2 separate regions of the Homo sapiens genome follow, and region 2 is linked to region 1. The links come from fine-mapping of genetic effects on gene expression. A gene starts in region 1. The other region holds a variant in brackets. All regions are shown on one strand. Distances are between the middles of the regions.

Region 1 (5,379 bases):
AAATGCATCCAAAAAAGAATACTCCTTAGGGCAGGAGCCACATTTGAAAACCTTCAACAGCAGCCTCAGAGCAGGAAGGGCCAAAAGGAAGGAATAAAAATGGAAACTCTAACTCATAAACCCCTTGGTAAAGAAAAAGGTGCAAAAAAGTTGTACCTTCACATTTACAGAAACACTCTAAACTTTTTTTTCAGGGGGAAAAAAAGCTAGGACTGACAAATGAGAGAATGACTTTCACATAACCCCAGTTTGACTTTATCACCCAAATAATTTAAGAGTTTCCACTTCTCACAAAAATCAATACAAAAACATCATTCTTACTACTTCAGGGACAAATTTCCTTTCTCTTTTATGTATGCGAGGATTTGGGTTTGTTTTAAGGTCTGAACTGGTTAAATTTAGTGTTCTGGCAGCTGAAAAACAATCATCATAATTCTCAAGTTCTCCATCCTATTCAATCTTTGCCACGCTAAGCTGCATGAAGCCATGGCTCCATATGGCTTAAACACATTTGAGACCTGGTGTAGGATCACATTAAACCCTTCAGTGCCTATCAGATACACAATAACCTAATTAGCTAGCAGAGCACATGTGACAGTGGCCTGGCCAGAAACGCAGTGGAAGACACTTCCTTCAACTCTTTCACCAAAGACGAGGTGAGCACTTTGCAAAGGGGAACTGGGAGAAAATAGGGAAAGGTGGAGAGGAAAATGTGGAGGGAAGTGTGCAGCTAGGGTTTTCAAAGAACATTACAGTAAACAGAAATGGCACCCACAGGGGGTGCACTGTAGAAAAAGCAATCATCTTTTTTGCAACACATACAATGTGGAATAGATGACCTCTCTGAATTTTGCACCTCTAACTTTCCACTGAACCTTTCAGAAAGTTACTAGTGAGGTTGAGGTCTGAGGAGCTTAAGTGCCCAAACCACATTTTGGTGTCATTTCCCTGCAAAAGAAATGCGGTATCTATGCCTAACTGCCAAGGTATTTTAGCTCATATACAGGGATAGATAAGCTTCTAAAAAATTACATTTGTTTCTCCTACCAGATATTCCCAGGCTGTGGCCACCAGATTTTCAAACAGCCTAGGGGTAAAGCATTAAACACGAAGTGAGTACAACAAAATTATTCACAGACAAGAAAAGTGTGGATGCTAATGGGTAACACTAAGGGAAATAAACACATGTTGTTTTTAATCCAAGACAAACCAAAACCCTTAAAAACACCTATTTTATAACTCTTAACAACCACAGCCTCTGTATCAAAGACTCAAGAACTTGGATTTACCGAAAAGTCAATTTGCAGTACCAAAATTACCGAGATTAGCCTCTGGCTGTCGACACTGACTTAAGAACCTGCTTTAGGCTGGAGCTGTTTAAAATTTAAACCAAAGTAAACTCCTTCAGGACCTTAAGACTACTGACTGTACTTTAAATTTTTTCTGCACACTGAAGAGGGGGCAGGCAGGCTTCGGTACCCAGATAGGCTGTAAGCAAAACAAAGATTTGTTGATTTGTGCGTAGACTCTAAATTGCTGCTGTAGGTCCGTTAAGTAAGAGAAAACTCTTTTTCTCTGTTAAGTCATACAGATAAATTTAGTCGGTAGCTCTGCATAGAAAGTGGGGACAAGCGTGCCCTGAAGGGCCGCATCATAACGCCGACCCCGGCTCGGTGGGGGCCAGTCGGCAGCTTCTCTCTTCAGCCGTGGGCGCTGGGGCCGAGCACGGTGGAGAAAGGCCGGCGAGCCGCTGGTTCCCGGCCTATGGCTACTCGGGCGAGGCCTAGGAGAGGCCGCGCCGGCTGAGGAAAACCGGTAAATGCGAGGAGCTCCCACACCCTATCTGCAATCCGGGACTCAGAAGCCCTCCCCGAGGCCAGGGCCCGCACCTGCCGCCCCGCCCGCCGCGCCTCAGGCCTCTGGCCCGTGGGACTCACAGCTTCAGCTGCTCGTAGGCCGCCGTCGCCATCCTGCACAACCACCTCCTTCCTTCTCTCTCCGCCCGCCCCGCCCCGCGCCGCCACCTCGGCTACAACTCTACCGGTCACCCTGGCACAGCGGCCGCAGCTCCCAGCCTCTTCCCACCCCTTTCCCCGCCCCGCAGGAGAGCCGGCCTGAACGGGAGGCGGTGGAGGACAAATTAGTGCGCAAGCAAGAGCACGCGAGAGATGCCGCCGACGCGGCGGGTTGGAGTGCGACGAAGAGCGCCGTGACGAAGCCGCTGCGGATTGGTGGGGCGCGTTTTGGGGAAAGGCAGAGCAGCGGGAGCGCGGCGCAAGGGCAAAATGGATCGTTGGTACCCGGAAGCCCGTTCAAACTGTATAAGGGTGATCAGCTATCACGGAGAAGGCTTTAGCAAGTCGGGGCCAGTGGCGCAATGGATAACGCGTCTGACTACGGATCAGAAGATTCTAGGTTCGACTCCTGGCTGGCTCGCGATGTCTGTTTTGCCACACTTGACCCATGTACTACTGGGTCTTGTAAAGATGTATATTCACAATGTGAAAGTATTACAAGACCTTGGAAAGGTGTATGGTTAGAATGTGAAAGTTAAATATCTGAAATTTTGATGCCGCTTTGCTCACAATGTCATCCTTTATCCTTTAAACCTGGAGTTGTCTGAGGTGGTTTGCAAACTGCAAAGCGCCCTGTTCCCAATGATGCACCTGAGAAGTCTGTAAATGGGGTAAATTTAGGCAAACACACCTGGAAAAGTGGCATTTTGGAGTGGGGAATGCTGTGGCCGGAGGTTAGCAACCGGATGATGCAAAAGCGTATTTAAGGCAGCAGTTCTGGCCTTTCCCCGCCACGGAGCAGAAGCCCCCATAGTGATGTGAGAAGCGGCGCTGTCCCAGTTTACTAGGATGGGATGGGCTTTGGATCTAACCAGCAGCGAAGAAAACCTGCGGTGCGGCTGCGCTCGGTAGTAGGGGTCCACAAAGCGTCAGAATCTGCAGCAGCCCCGGCCTTTGCGAGCTCCAGCTCCGAAGTCAACCCGGCCCCCAAATTCCACTGGGAAACCTTAAGACACCGGTGTTTTTACCGTAAGAAGACCTCAGGTAATCTAGTATATTACCCCTCATTGTATGGATGCGCGACTTGGACACCCGAGAAGGCGCGAAACGTCTGCGGCCTAAAGGGACTCGAACCGGGGGATTATATGAGTCATCGGACACTGTCCGTTAACCAATCACTCAATCGATCAATTAATTTCCGCAACATAACGTTTTCCCCTGATAAAATTATAGATTTTTAAAATATATAAAATTATTGGGAATATTAACGCGATTCCCACCCTAAATCATTACTATTATTTTTTTTTTCCTTAAAGCCTTTTTTTCTTCTATATTTTTTAACATGGGCATACTTGCACATGTGTTTTTCCAAATTGGGGTTGTACGGAAATGGGTTCCTCATTTTGTCTCCTTACCTTTTTGTCTGAGATTTAAGGTCATTAAATATTCTTTGAAGATATTTCATCAGAGAGCTAGATATTTTAAGCAGAATCCTTATGCTGGGAATTTGGGTGGTTGTCAGTTTAACACCTAGAAAAAATGATGCTGCTTAGGAGTTCGAGACCAGCCTGGGCAACATAGCAAGACCTCATCTCTATTTACTAAATAAATAAATAAATTTTAATTAGCCAGGTGTGGTGGTGTGCACCTATAGTCCTAGCTACTCAGGAGGCTGAGGTGGGAGGATCACCTCAGCCCAGGAGGTTGAGGCTGCAGTGAGCTGTTACCATGCCACTGCACTCCAGCCTGAGCAACAGAATGAGACCCTGTGTTGAATTATTATTATTTTGAGACGGAGTCTCGCTCTGTCACCCAGGCTGGAGTGCAGTGGCGTGATCTCGGCTTACTGCAGTCTCTGCCTCCCGGGTTCAAGCAATTCTCCTGCTTCAGCCTCCCAAGTAACTGGGACTACAGGTGTGTGCCACCACGCCCGACTAATTTTTTGTATTTTTTAGTAGAGACGGGGTTTCACCGTGTTAGCAAGGATGGTCTTGATCTACTGATCTCGTGATCCGCCCACCTCAGCCTCCCAAAGTGCTGGGGTTAGATGTGAGCCACTGTGCCCGGCCGAATTATTTGTCTTACAAATTTCTAGAGGTGGAACGACCAGGTGGACATCTGTAAGGTCCATTTTATGGACATTTTTAAGACTTTTGTTACTTTCTGACTGCCCTCCAAAAAATTAAACCAAAACACACTTCCATCAACAGCACCTGTTTCTCTGTTTTCGTGCATGCTAACCAACACTGGCTATTATAAATTTAACCGTGATTTGCAATTTTCATAATTGGAATATGGAACTTCCTTTTACATGTACTTTATATATTTTCTCTTGATGTATTGAATTTTTTCTTACAAATTTGATTTTTTAATATATTAAGGGTATTAACTCTTAAATACGTTGCAATCTTTTTTCCAGCTTATGATTTACCTTTTCAAAATTTTTTTAACGGCTGGGCACGGTGGCTCATGCCTGTAATCCCAGTGCTTTGGGAGGCCAAGGCAGGTGGATCTCTTGAGGTCAGGAGTTCGAGACCCGCCTGGCCAACATGGTGAAACCCTCTCTCTATTTAAAAATACAAAAATTAGCAAGGCATGGTGGTGTGTGCCTGTAGTCCCAGCCACTCAGGAGGCTGAGGCAGGAGAATTGCTTGAACCTGGGAGGTGGAGGCTGCAGTTGGCTGAGATCACGTCACTGCACTCCAGCCTGGGTGACACAGTGAAACTCTGTCTCAAAAAAAAAAAAAAAAAAAAAATATATATATATATATATATATATATATTTGAACTTGTAGTAATTTTCACTTTATATATTCACACTTACTAATATTTGGTTTCTTCTATTATATGATTTTTTAATGTTTTGTTCTTATGTTGTTTTTACCATTTACTTTAATCCATTTGTCATTTATTTTGTTGCCATTTATCATGATGTAAAGATCAATTAATCTTAAAACCTGACACACTTTATTGAGCAATTACTTCATGCCAGAAACTGCTCTAATTCCCTTACTTGGATGAATTCAATCATTCCTTACAACAATTGTTGTACCTGAGCGAGTTAGAAAAACGCCACACTTTAAGACGAATTAAGAGTCCTTTATTAGCCAGCGACCGAGAGACGGCTAACACTCAAAATTTTCTCAGCCCTGAGGAAAGGGCTAGATTTTCTTTTATACTTTGGTTTAGAAAGGGGAGGGGGGGGTCTAGTTAAAACAATTTTACAGAAATAAAGTAGGCAAAAAGTTAAAAGGATAAATGGTTACAGGAAAGTAAACAGTTCCAGGTGCAGGGGCTTTAAGACTATTACAAGGTGATAGACCCGGGGCTTTGGGCGTTATCAATCAGACGAATTCCTGGGAAT
Region 2 (5,379 bases), 31 kb after region 1:
TAAAAATACAAAAATTAGCTTGGCATGGTGGCACGCGCCTATAATCCTAGCTACTTGGGAGGCCGCGGTAGGAGAATCGCTTGAACCTGGGAGGCGGAGGCTGCAGGAAGCTAAGATCGCGCCATTGCACTCTAGCCTTTATGACAGAGAGAGACTCCGTCTCGGGAAAAAAAAAAAAAAAAAAAAAAAAAGACAGCCCACCTAAGAGAAGCTTGCTCAACCAGTAAGCAAAACTATTCACACACTGTCTGATCACAAAGTCCAAATCTTTACTTGTGGAGCTCCCCACTTTCGCCTCTTCCTTCTCGGAATTCCCGCAGGGTAAACTCATTCCTCAAGAGAGGAAAGAAGGTGGGGCTGCAGTTGCGGATGGGGCCCCTAGAGGGAGCTAGGAGGCCACCAGGAAACGGCGCAGGACTTCCAGAGCTTAGGCTTCTGATCCAATGTATGGAGAACACAGCAAACAGCACTTTGGTTCCAGGAATGGGGTTAGCAAGTTCTAAGGAATCTGAGCTGGAAATCAACGTTTTGTGTAATAGGGCGAAGATCACCTCTATTCCAAAAATCACAGAGGAAGATCATTGAACATGCAGAAGCACTGAACCCTCTAGTGTTAAGAAACAAATTAAACGAAAGCTTTTTCATCCAGGAGATCAACAAAGATTTTTTAAGTGTTTGTGATTGTTGTCACTGTATATTTTCATAAGCTACTGCTGAGAGTGTAAGATGATAAACTCTCCCTGGAAGGGAAACTTTAAAATGTTTATCTCTGACTCAGTGAGGTTATCTGAGACTTAGCTTTGGGAAAGAATTTTAAAAAGTGAATAAATATTTACTTAGATCCAAACTGGCAGCCTTAGAGGAATGGTTATATAAACCAGAGTACATATAAATGATGAAATGTTACATAGCTATTTAAAATGTCATTTAAATAGTGTTTTAGTCATATTGGAAAATGCTTATATATAGCATATATATATGTTTGGGGATAGCATATATATATGTTTGGGGTTTTTTTGAGATGGAGCCTGACTCTGTCACCCAGGCTGGAGTGCAGTGGTGCAATCTGCAGCCTCAGCCTCCCAGGCTCAAGGAATCCTCCCACCTCGGCCTCCTGAGTAGATAGGGCTACAGGTGTGCACCACCACAACTGCCTAATTTTTGTATTTTTTTGTAGAGACAGTGTTTCGCCATGTTGTCTAAGGCTAGTCAACAACTCCTGGGCTCAAGTGATCAGCCCATCTCAGGATTACAGGTGTGAACTACTGCACCCAGACTGAAAATATATTAACAAGTGAAAAAAGCAAACTTGACAAGTGTATTTATAGTACAATTCCATTTCAGTAATTTGCAGATACCACTGATATGCAAAAGGGAAAAAAACAAACAGTGGGTAACACTGGTAGAAGTATAACAGTGAAACATCACTTTCTACTTTATATACTTTAATATTTTAAATTTTCTTTCTAGTATTAGGTACAGTGACAGATGGTATTAGAGAGAAATTTCACTTTACTTCACATATTTCTATATTAAATTTTTCTAGAAATATGTATAATATGAAAAAATACTTTTAATCTTAAAAGAAAACCCTTATGTTATAATGTGAAAAGTAAAAAGCAAGATTTAAAAATTGTGCATCTCAACTATATAAAGAAATTCAAAGAAAAAAAGACTGGAAAGGAAATCTGCCCATGAGTGGCAACGCCTCTGAGTGGACATATTTAGAATCTGCATGGTGAGGCCAGGCACGGTGGCTCATGCCTGTAATCCTAGCACTTTGAGAGGCCAAGGCGGGCAGATCGCCTGAAGTCGGGAGTTCAAGACCAGTCTGACCAACATGGAAAAGCCCCCTCTCTACTAAAAATACAAAATTAGCCAGGCATGGTGGTGCATGCCTGTAGTCCCAGCTACTCAGGAGGCTGAGGCAGGAGAATCACTTGAACCCAAGGAGTGGAGATTG[T/C]GGTGAGCTGAGATCACACCATTGCACTCCAGCCTGCAATGAGCAACATGAGCAAAACTCAGTCTCAAAAAAAAAAAAAAAAAAAAAAAAAAAAAAAAGAATCTGCATGGTGGAGGGGATGGTTTATTTCCTAGTTGGTTGCTTCTATATACTTTCCTACACTTTCCCAAAGATTTACCAATGAGCAGGTATTGCTCTGATCATTTAAAAAATTGCCCAGCTGGCTAGATAAGTCCTCTTGCTGCCAGTTCCCACAGCTGAGAATTCCCATGTCCGGACACAGGAGGCCAGTACAGGGGGTTGGGGGACTACGTCTGATTTTCCTTTATTCCAAATTTTAAAAAACTGAGACTCCCCCACTGACCTAAGAGGGTGGGGCTTAGTTTGCTCTGAAGAACTCACACTTCATTTTTCACTTCGGTTTTGAAAGACCACCTGAGGTTAGAAACTGGATAGTGTATCAAAATATATTTGTTTGTATTCTGAGTGGGAGAAAAGCCTAACATCTACTGATTGTCTTCTGTGGTCTAAGTACTATGTTTAGGGCTTTCACATATATTTTTAAATGCTTGAAAACTTTGCCACACAGGTTACTGCATCACTCCACCTTCTGACCCTGTACTGTCACATGCCTTTTACGGAAGAAACTCACAAAGTCATTTCCTACTCAAAGCCATCACCTACTCCAGGTTTCAGTGAGCGTAGAAAGGGTTCAGTAAAGAGTCGGGCAGAAATAAAACACATCACATGTCAATGTCATGGAGCAGTACAAGGATACAGGAATTGATTATTTTTGGGAATCACTTGAAATCACACCCAAGGATTACTCCTAACTTTCTGGAGTAAAAATATGATACTTATGAATTACACATTATCGTTTTCATTTCATAAGTAAGGAAATTGAGGCTTACCCAGGTAGTAAGTGGGCAGGATGGGAACCCAGATTTGTCTGACTGTGAAGACTGTGCTTGTTCCACTGCACCATGAGGCCATGCAGCAGTATTTAATGCTTGTTGGATGCACACCTATATGCAGAATCCAGTTTCTCTCTTCTGCCAGGAAATGGGACAGGCCTTTCTTTCTTTTTCCTTTTTTTTTTTTTTTTTTTTGAGACAGCGTCTTGCTCTGTTGCCCAGGCTGGAGTGCAGTGGTACAATCATAGCTCACTGCAGCCTCGAACTCCTGGTCTCAGCAATCCTCCCGCCTTGGCCTCCCAAAGCGTTGAGATTACAGGTGTGAGTTACCATATCTGGCCGGAAAAGGGAATTTTCATTCAAACACTTTCTAGGTACTGGGCCTTTTACTTGCCTCATGTCTCACTTAAGTGTCATGAACAGCTCCGTAAAAACTCCTTGTGATGACAGGCATTTAGATGTAACTTGATAGGTAACCTTCCACTTGGAGACAGGCTAAAGTTTGTATCTTTGGAGAAAGGGGGTTGCTGAGAGGAGGCTGAGGCCAGGTAGGAAACAGCAAGCAACCTGGTGCTGAGAAGCAGGGAGGCAGAAAAGGTATTCTCCAGGCTGAATCACCCCAGATTTGGCCAATGAAACAGACGCCAACTAACCTGAAAATTCCTGGAATCACTGCCACTGTCCTGAAAGTTCCAATCAAGAGCAGGATCCAGAATCCTCCTTATTGACATTTAAGCTAGAGCACCCAACCGCCACTAGGTGGTGCCAAACCACAGCCAGGACAAGGACAGGTTGAAGCAGCACAATTTACCCCAAGCCAGCCAGCCCTGGAGGCCTGCTTGAGTCATTTCATTAATCTTGCAATAATGTGCCCTGACGTTTGGGCAGTTGAAACTCACTTGTCGGCTGGGCGTGGTGGCTCACGCCTGTAATCTCAGCACTTTGGGAGGCCAAGGTGGGCGGATCATGAGGTCAGGAGACCAAGACCATCCTGGCCAACATGGTGAAACCCCGTCCCTACTAAAAATACAAAAACCAGCTGGGTGTGGTGGTGCGTGCCTGTAATCCCAGCTACTCAGGAAGCTGAGGCAGGAGAATCGCTTGAACCCGGGAGGCCGAGGTTGCAGTGAGCCGAGATTGCACCACTGCACTCCAGCCTGGCGACAGAGTGAGACTCCGTCTCAAAAAAAAAAAGAAAGAAAAAGAAAAAGGAAACTCACTTACTATATTACGGTTGAGTTACTGATGCTTTTTTTTTTTTTTCTGATGGAGAAACAAAAGCTAAAGAGGTTAAATTCACCTATGTAGCTAAAAGTTAAATAGAAAAGTTGAGATTCGAACCCAGGTCTCTCTTGTGCAAAGTCAACACTCTTTCCACCACACTATACTGTCTCTCTTGTTTTCTGTTCCAAAAGGAATATCTCTCAGACTAAGGGGAATGTCTTAGTCATTTTAGGCTGTTAGAACAAAATACCATAAAGTGAGTAGCTTAAACAATAGACATTTATTTCTCACAGCTCTGGAGGTTGGAAGTCCAACATCAGGGTGCTAGTAGGGTCAGGTTCTTGGTGAGGATCCAGTTCCTGATTTACAGATGGCTGTCTTCCTGCTGTTTTCTCACATGGTGGAAAGGGAACTAACTACATCTCTGAGCTCTTCTTATAAGGACACTAATCCCATTCAGGAAGTATCCACTCTCATAACTTAATCACCTCCCAAAGACTCCACCTCCAAATACCATCATGTTGGGATTAGAGATTCAACATAAGGATTTGTGAGGGGGCGGTATAAACGTTCAGTCCTTCCAGGGAAGTAGATGGATTTCCTGGCATTCCCAATTAAACTTCCTTCTGCTCCCTTGAAGAGGCAAATTTCACTGTCCTCACTGACTTGTTATGGCGGCTCATACGTAGAGACGTAACACTAGGGAGCTGCTGCGGCTTTGGCAGAGCTAATAAGGACAGAGGACAAAATGGAATAGCCGAGGGATAAACACCAAAAACTTAGGTGGTTCTCAAACCTTAGCATGCTTCAGAACCACCAGGTGAGTTTGTTGAAACACAGACTGCTGACTTAGTAAGTGTGGGAAGGGGCCCGAGACTCTGCATTTCTAGTTAAGTTCCCTAGTGATGCTGATGGTGCTAGTCCAGGGACCACACTTTGAGAACCACCAAGTCAGACTATGCCTCAGGCTTGTCTCTGAACTGGCACTTCCATTTGATGCTGTTCATCTTGGTCAAAAATGCTAAGACCTAAACCATCCCTGAATAATCAGCATCAAACATAAACTGGGGGTGGGAGTGTCAGTGTTACATCTTTATAATTCTAGTTTCAGAATCGTCCTGCTTCCAGTAAAGGAATTCCCTCCACTAGGAAATAGCTGATGATCGTCACACTAAATATATACTCAATAGACCATTTTTACAGTTTAGAAGACAGTAGTCAAAATGCTCTTTATTTTCTTTATTTACATCAGCCGTTTATAAAATATTGACTGATAGG

Evidence for each region. PIP is the estimated chance that this variant, and not a neighbour inherited with it, causes the effect.
Region 2: its variant is fine-mapped to the expression of LIMD1-AS1 in testis (GTEx, PIP 0.95).

Annotation. Positions count from the first base shown.
Region 1 is chr3:45,686,056-45,691,434 of GRCh38, reverse strand. It overlaps LIMD1-AS1 (LIMD1 antisense RNA 1), which reads left to right and starts at 2,553. Exons shown (of 3, transcript NR_033947.1): 1 at 2,553-3,059. It overlaps LIMD1 (LIM domain containing 1), which reads right to left. Exons shown (of 8, transcript NM_014240.3): 8 at 5,094-5,379. It overlaps SACM1L (SAC1 like phosphatidylinositide phosphatase), which reads right to left and starts at 2,039. Exons shown (of 20, transcript NM_014016.5): 1 at 1,938-2,039. The coding sequence starts at 1,969. It overlaps TRR-ACG2-1 (tRNA-Arg (anticodon ACG) 2-1), which reads left to right and starts at 2,364; the gene lies at 2,364-2,436. RefSeq lists a silencer at 1,848-2,027 and enhancers at 2,058-2,347, 2,608-2,657, 3,168-3,237.
Region 2 is chr3:45,655,218-45,660,596 of GRCh38, reverse strand. The region is part of intron 2 of LIMD1 (LIM domain containing 1); the gene reads right to left. Among named protein-coding and RNA genes, the nearest start is that of LIMD1-AS1, 31 kb to the left of the region's middle. The variant T/C (reference allele first, on the strand shown) is at 1,964.